2 linked regions of the Homo sapiens genome follow. The protein of the gene in region 2 purifies or fractionates together with the protein of the main gene of each other region. This does not show direct contact. Each region holds a gene or a part of one and is shown on either strand. Other genes may lie near its edges.

What was found.
Region 1: the proteins of USP30 (region 2) and NLRP3 purify together in Homo sapiens (affinity purification with western blotting; one study listed by BioGRID). This does not show direct contact.

The regions. Positions count from the first base shown.
Region 1 is NC_000001.11:247,425,863-247,429,678, forward strand, and holds part of NLRP3 (NACHT, LRR and PYD domains-containing protein 3), read left to right. Parts: intron 1-3,722; coding exon 3,723-3,816. UniProt on the Homo sapiens protein: Sensor component of the NLRP3 inflammasome, which mediates inflammasome activation in response to defects in membrane integrity, leading to secretion of inflammatory cytokines IL1B and IL18 and pyroptosis.
Region 2 is NC_000012.12:109,076,514-109,080,329, reverse strand, and holds part of USP30 (ubiquitin carboxyl-terminal hydrolase 30), read right to left. Parts: intron 1-3,816. UniProt on the Homo sapiens protein: Deubiquitinating enzyme tethered to the mitochondrial outer membrane that acts as a key inhibitor of mitophagy by counteracting the action of parkin (PRKN): hydrolyzes ubiquitin attached by parkin on target proteins, such as RHOT1/MIRO1 and TOMM20, thereby blocking parkin's ability to drive mitophagy.

The sequences.
Region 1 (3,816 bases), on a different chromosome or scaffold from region 2:
TAGGATTGCCTACAAATATTTGTCAACTGAAATTTCTTGTAAGCTACTTGGAGCACTAGTGCCTAAGAGTCAGTCAATGTCTGTGGGGCAGAACAATGCCAGAGAGTCTGTGTCCCAGGAGCGAGGGGACAGAGGGCCTCAGAGCTGGAGGCTGGGGGGATGTTTCTTAGAAATGTGCAATCTAAGCCTCCTTTAAGGAATGGTGGGACCTGGGCGCATAGAGAAGAAATTAAAGGAATTCTGCACTGAAGACTGGTATGAGCCAAATCATGAATGCAGTCTGAGAAAAAGTGTGTGCAGGTGACAGTGGAGAGAGACACAGTTTCCTTGGAAAAAAACATGATGAAGGTAAATCAAGGGAAATAGAGCAGAAATGTGGAGACCCTCTTTCTAGGCCCCCATGTTGCTCTGCACTGGGCATTGCCAAAACCCCGTTTTCGGGTCTGTTCACACACTTGCTGGGTGGTTGGAAGCTAGTGGCCAAGTCTGTGCAATGAAGTGGTTGAGTCACCTGACTTCTGAGTCCCTTTTGGGTTTATCGTTCAGTGCCTCCTGCAGAAGGACCACCCACAGTGGTTGTAGGAAGGTGGCCACCCTGTGATGTGTGAGTTTAGCCTGGATAGAAGACACTTGACGTGGGGCAAAATTAAGGGAAACAGGAGGCTTGGCCCTTCCACAGGCAACAATGAGTTTCAGCTTTCTTGATCCGTTGACATTACCATGACCAGGACCACCTTCCTAGTCATGGTTTGGCCATGAAGGACTGACTGCCCACAGGGCCGCAGTGGTGGTGAAGACCCAGGTCCTGGTCACAGGGACTTGAGGTCTGGCTGTGGGACAGTCCGGAAACAAGTGCAGATGTCGGGGAGGGGGTCATGGGCTCTGACAAGGAAACTTGCAGAGTATCCAAAGCACAAGGGGACGAACCTGTTCACCAGCGGGGCACGGGTGGGTGTCCCCGCTCAGCCAGCTTCCGGAGGATGGGCAGTGAGAGAGTGAGAGAAGGAAAGGGGCAGCCAGGCTGGGGGCTTACGGTGTTGAGAGAGAGGGCAGGTGTGGGAAAGCAGGGTACGGTTTCTACGGCAGCAAACAGTTCCGAGTGACTGGAAAAAAGACAGTTGTCTTCATTCATCAGGTTGCCATAACAAAACACTGCAGGCTGGTTGGCTTATAAGCAAAAGGAAGGTTCACCTTACGGTTCTGGAGGCTGGGAAGTCCATGATCCAGGCTCTGGCAGATCTGGTGTTTGGTGAGGGCCTGTTCCCTGGTCGATGGTGCCTTCTCACTGTGTCCTTACATGGTGAAGAGGCAAGGCAGCTCTCTGGGGTCCCTTTCCTAAGGACAGCAATCCCACTCCTGAGGGCTCCACCCTCATAACTTAACCACACCTCAAAGGCCCCATCGCCTGATACGTCATGTTGAGGGTTAGGATTTCAGCGTATGGATTTTGGGGCACACAAACATTCAGACCATAGAAATGGGAGAAGAAGAGTAAGACAGAGAGAAAAGTAGGCAGAACTACTCATTAAGAGTGAGGTGGAAGGTGGAGAGGGCAGGGAGACCTTATGAAGATCACACATCTGTGAGGAAGGTTTGCACACTCTCACTGAAGCCCCGGTAGGAGGCTCAGCACCCATTTCTCTAGATAGCACCTTCCTTCCTCTGAGGACAGATTCTGACTGGAGCCCTGGTAGGGGGCTCAGCACCCATCCCTCTAGATGGCACCTGCCTTACTCTGAGGACAGACTCTCACTGAAGCCCCGGTAGGAGGCTCAGCACCCATTTCTCTAGATAGCACCTTCCTTCCTCTGAGGACAGACTCTGATTGGAGCCCTGGCAGGGGGCTCAGCACCCATTTCTCTAGATAGCACCTTCCTTCCTCTGAGGACAGACTCTCACTGAAGCCCCGGTAGGAGGCTCAGCACCCATTTCTCTAGATAGCACCTTCCTTCCTCTGAGGACAGACTCTGATTGGAGCCCTGGCAGGGGGCTCAGCACCCATCCCTCTAGATGGCACCTGCCTTACTCTGAGGACAGACTCTCACTGAAGCCCCGGTAGGAGGCTCAGCAACCATTTCTCTAGATAGCACCTTCCTTCCTCTGAGGACAGACTCTGATTGGAGCCCTGGCAGGGGGCTCAGCACCCATTTCTCTAGATAGCACCTTCCTTCCTCTGAGGACAGACTCTCACTGAAGCCCCGGTAGGAGGCTCAGCACCCATTTCTCTAGATAGCACCTTCCTTCCTCAGGACAGACTCTGACTGGAACCCTGGTAGGGGGCTCAGCACCCATCCCTCTAGATGGCACCTGCCTTACTCTGAGGACAGACTCTGACGGGAGCCCTGGTAGGGGGCTCAGCACCCATCCCTCTAGATGGCACCTGCCTTACTCTGAGGACAGACTCTGACTGGAGCCCTGGTAGGGGGCTCAGCACCCATCTTTCTAGATGGCAGCTGCCTTACTCTGAGGGCAGGAGCTTGCTTTGTATGTTCCAGTCCCTTCTGAGAACCAGAAGCCTGAGCATCTATTAGAAATGCAGGATTGTGGACCCAATCTTAGACCTAGAGAGCTAGACTTTGCATTTGAATGAGAGCTACAGGTGATTCAAAGGTGACTGCATGTGTGGGTGCAGTGGCTCTTGCCTGTAATCCTAGGTTTTGGGAGGCCAAGATGGGGGGATTGCTTGAAGCCAGGAATTCAAGTCCTACCTGAGCAGCAAAGTGAGAGCACCTCTCTACAGAAAAACAAAAGCAAAAATGTGACTGCATGTTGGAGCCACCTGGCTTTTTTTAAATAAAAAAGATCCATATAGCTGGACACAGTGACTCGTGCCTGTAACCTCAGCTACTCGGGAGGCTGAGGCAAGAGGATTGCTTGAGCCCAGGAGTTTGAGGCTGCAGTGAGCTATGATCATGGCACTGCATTCCAGCTTGGGTTTCATCTGAAAAAAAATTTAAAAAATTCATCTAGTTCCACCTCAGAGCTTCTGATTTTATTTCCATGGATGTGGCCTGGGCTTGCGATTTTCTTTTTCTTTTTTTTTTTTTTGAGATGAAGTCTTGCTCTGTTGCCCAGGCTGGAGTGCTGTGGCATGATCTTGGCTCACTGCAACTTCCACCTCCCAGGTTCAAGTGATTCTCCTGCCTCAGCCTCCCTAATAGCTGGGATGACAGGCTCGTGCCACCACACCCAATTAATTTTTGTATTTTTAGTAGAGAGAGGGTTTCACCATGTTGGCCAGGCTGATCTTGAACTCCTGACCTCAGGTGATCTGCCCGCCTCGGCCTCCCAAAGTGCTGGGATTACAGGTGTGAGCCACCATGCCCAGCCTGGCCTGAGGATTTTTGTGAGCACTCCTGATGCTGTTGTGTAGCCAGGAGTGAGGACTGCCCTCTGATCACCCAGCACAGAACGTTCAGGGCCATGTTGGGACAGTGGACTGGTAAGGGCGAGAGGAGGACACTGGGGAGCAGGCTGTAGGGTGCCACAGTCCGCCACAGTCACAGGCTCATGCTCTCCGTCCGAGAGGAGGCAGAACTGCTTTTACCAAGGCTCATCCAGCCCTCTTCATTTCTCTGGGAACAATTTTTGGTTTCGTGACCCATTTCTTAATCCCCGGAAGGCATTTCTCTGAACTGGTGCCAGGCACCCCGGCCCCCAGCTCCAGTTAGTTATTATTCGAGGCTGATTTCTTTTCTGTCTGTCTTCCTTCTAATTCCTAGATTGGTGAACAGCCACCTCACTTCCAGTTTTTGCCGGGGCCTCTTTTCAGTTCTGAGCACCAGCCAGAGTCTAACTGAATTGGACCTCAGTGAC
Region 2 (3,816 bases):
TTTGTGGCTTTTTTTCCTGGTTGATGTGGTGCTGGGTGGCGAAAAGCAGCATCCTACAGGATTGAGTGGTCAGACGACAGAGTTCAAGAATCAGGGCTGGTGGAGAGACCAGGGGAAATGCCAGGAAGAAAGGAGACACAGAGGGGATGAGCCCCAAAGTTTATACCTAAACTCTGTTCAATTCCAGGGCTGATCCCTGAACCACACGTGCACAGGGGGAAACTCCAGGGAGCCTGGCAAAAAGTAGCAGCTGGAAGCTAAAAAAACTGAGCAGAGATTTTGCTGCCCAATGTAGGGGAGACAGAGTTGAGTTTGAGCCCAGCCAGGTTAACTGCAGGCCAGAAGAAAATTAATTTTTCTTCATAGATATGTAACAGAATCCCTACTCTCTATGTCTCTATTATGATGTTAAGCATACAATAAAAAATTACCAAACATAAAATACAAAGAAGTCAGCACACGAGGACCTCACAGATGTATCATAAATATGCTCAAGGATGTAAAGGAAAATATACAGTGACAGTGAATGAACAAATTGAGAATCTCAGAACAATGGAAACTATTAAAAAGAAGGCAATGGAAATTCTATAACTAAAAACAACAGTGATTACGATGAAAAATTTGTTGCATAGGCAAACAGAGATTGGAGATGAAAAAAGAATCAGGCCAGGTATGGTGGCTCACACCTGTAATCCCAACACTTTGGGAGGCTGAAGTGTAAGGATCACTTGAGCCCAGGAGTTCAGGACCAACCTGAGCAACACAGTGAGACCCTGTCTCTACAAAAAATAAAAAAAAATTAGCTGGGTGTGGTGGCACACACCTGTAGTCCCAGCTGCTCAGGGGGCTAAGGTGGGAGGATAACTTGAGCCTGGGAGGTTGAGGCTGCAGTGAGCTATGATCACATTATTGCAATCCAGCCTCGGTGACAGAGCTAAGACCCCTGTCACAAAAAAAAAAAAAAAAAAAAAAAAAAAAGAAAAAAAAAAAGAAAAAGAAAAGAAAAAAAGAGAAAAAAGAATCAGTGAACGTGAAGATAAGTCAATAGAAATGATCTAATTTAAAGAACACACAGAAGAAAGATTGAAGAAAATTGAACAAGACCTCAGTGACCTGTGGGCCAACATTAAGTAAAATAACAAGTGAAAAATGGGCATAAAATCTTTGTTGAAAAAATAACAGCCAAGAATTTTCAAACTTGGTTAAAAAAAGTACAAATTTAAGAAACTCAGCAAACCCCAAACAAGATAAATAAGATAAATACTAAGAAAACCACATCTATGCGCAGCATGAACAAAAATAAAGAGAAAATTTTGTAAGCAGTGTAAGCAGAAGAAAAACAAATGACAATTTACATAGACAAGAATGATATAAATGACACTAACTGAGAAAATGGAGGCCAGAAGACAATAGAACAATGTCCTTAAAGTGATGAATTTAAAATAAACCAAAGCAAAACCACGGCAACACTGTCAACCCAAAGTTCTATATCCAGCAGTAGTATTCTTCAAAAATGAAGGCAAGACAAAAACATTTTCATATACATGAAATCTAAGTGTATCTGTCAGCAGTACACCTATAACAAATGTTAAAAGGAAGTTTTTAGGCCAAAAGGGAAAAAACATCAAATGGATTTTGATCTACAAGAAAGACTGAGAACAAGAAAAATGGTAAACATATTTTTCTATTAATTAATTAGTAGAAGAGAAGGCAACTCTTTTTTTTTTTTTTGAGATGGAGTCTCGCTTTGTCGCCCAGGCTGGCATGCAGTGGTGTGATCTCGGCTCACTGCAACCTCTGCCTCCCAGGTTCAAGCAATTCTCCTGCCTCAGCCTCTTAAGAGAAGGCAACTCTTGCATACTACTGGTGGGAATGTAAACTGGTGCAGCTATTTTTTTTTTTTTTTGAGACTCAGTCTCACTCTGTCGCCCAGACTGAAGTGCAGTGGCGTGATCTCGGCTCACCACAACATCGGCCTCCTGGGTTCAAGCCATTCTCCTGCCTCAGCCTCCCGAGTAGCTGGGATTACAGACGCCCGCCACCAGGCCCAGCTAATTTTTGTAATTTTAGTAGAGACGGGGTTTCACCATGTTGGCCATGCTGGTCTTGAACTCCTGACCTCGTGATCCACTCGTCTCAGCCTTCCAAAGTGCTGGGATTACAGACGTGAGCCACAGCACCTGGCTGGTGCAGCTATTATGGAAAATTGTACGGAGGAGGTTCCTCAAAAAGTTAAGAACAGAACTACTGTATGAACTAGCAATACCACTTCCAGGTATATATCCAAAGGAAATGAAATGAAACACATATAACTCTTTAAAGCAAAAACTATGACACAGTATTGTGAGGTTTATAATGTATGTATAATAGCACAAAGGCTGGGGTAACAGAACTATACTTTTGTAATATTCCAGGATTTTACATGAAGTATAATATTAACTCTAAATAGAATGTGATAAGGTAAAACTGCATAACGTAATCTCTCACACACACCCTCCCCCCCCAACACAAACACACAAGAGTAAAGCTAAAAGGCCAACAAAGGTATTAAAATGGAATACTAAAAAGTATTCCATTAACCTGAAAGAAGCCAGTGAAGGGGGAACAGAGGAACAAGAAAATATGTAAGACAAACAGAAAACAAATGGTAAAATGGCAGACCTAAATCTAATCACATCAATACTTACATTAAATGTAAATGGACTAAGCATTCCAACTAAAAGATTGTCAAGCTAGTTAAAAAAGCAAGACCCATTATATGCTGTCCACAAAGTCACACTTTAAATACAAAGGCCGAAAATGACAGAAAGAAATGACCAAATAAACATTAGCTAGATTAAAAATGAATCATTCAAATAGACTTCAAGTCAAGGAGTCTTAGCAGAGATGAAGAGGGACAATTTATCATGACAAGATGAGTTAACTCATCATAATACATATGCTTGTATCCAATAACAAAGTTTAAAAAAAATTAGCAGAAATAGAGCTAAAGAAAAGACAAATTTTAGCAAACAAGCAAGAAATAATACCAATATTAAACAAAATCTTTCAGTAAACAGAGGAAGGAACATTTTCCAGCCTATTTTATGAGGCTAGTATAATCCTTATAACAAAGCCTGACAAAGACATCACAAGAGAAGAAAAGTGTAAGAACAATATTCCTCATAAACACAGATACTAATATCCTTTAGGAAATATTAGCAAATCAAATTCAATAATATATAAAAACAATAAAGCATCATGATCAAGTGGGGTTTATCCCAGAAAGGTTGGTTTAACATTAGAAAAATCAATCACTGGCTGGGCACAGTGGCTCATGCCTGTAATCCCAGCACTTTGAGAGGCTGAGGCAGGCGGATCACGAGGTCAGGAGATCGAGACCATCCTGGCTAACACGGTGAAACCCTGTCTCTACTAAAAAATACAAAAAATTAGCCGGGCGTGGTGGCGGGCGCCTGTAGTCCCAGCTACTCGGGAGGCTGAGGCAGGAGAATGGCGTGAACCTGGGAGGTGGAGCTTGCAGTGAGCCGAGATCACGCCACTGCACTCCAGCCTGGGCGACAGAGCAAGACTCCGTCTCAAAAAAAAAAAAAAAAAGAAAAAATCAATCACTGTAATTCACCAAGTCAACAGAATAAGACTAAAATATGATCATTTCAATGGATGCAGAAAAAACTGACAAAATCCAATCACTATTCATTACAAAAATTCTCAGCAAACTAGGAACAGAAGGGAAGTTTGTCAGTATGATAAAGAGGTATACTAAAACCTAAAGCTAATATCATACTTAATTATAAAACACCAAATACTTGCTTC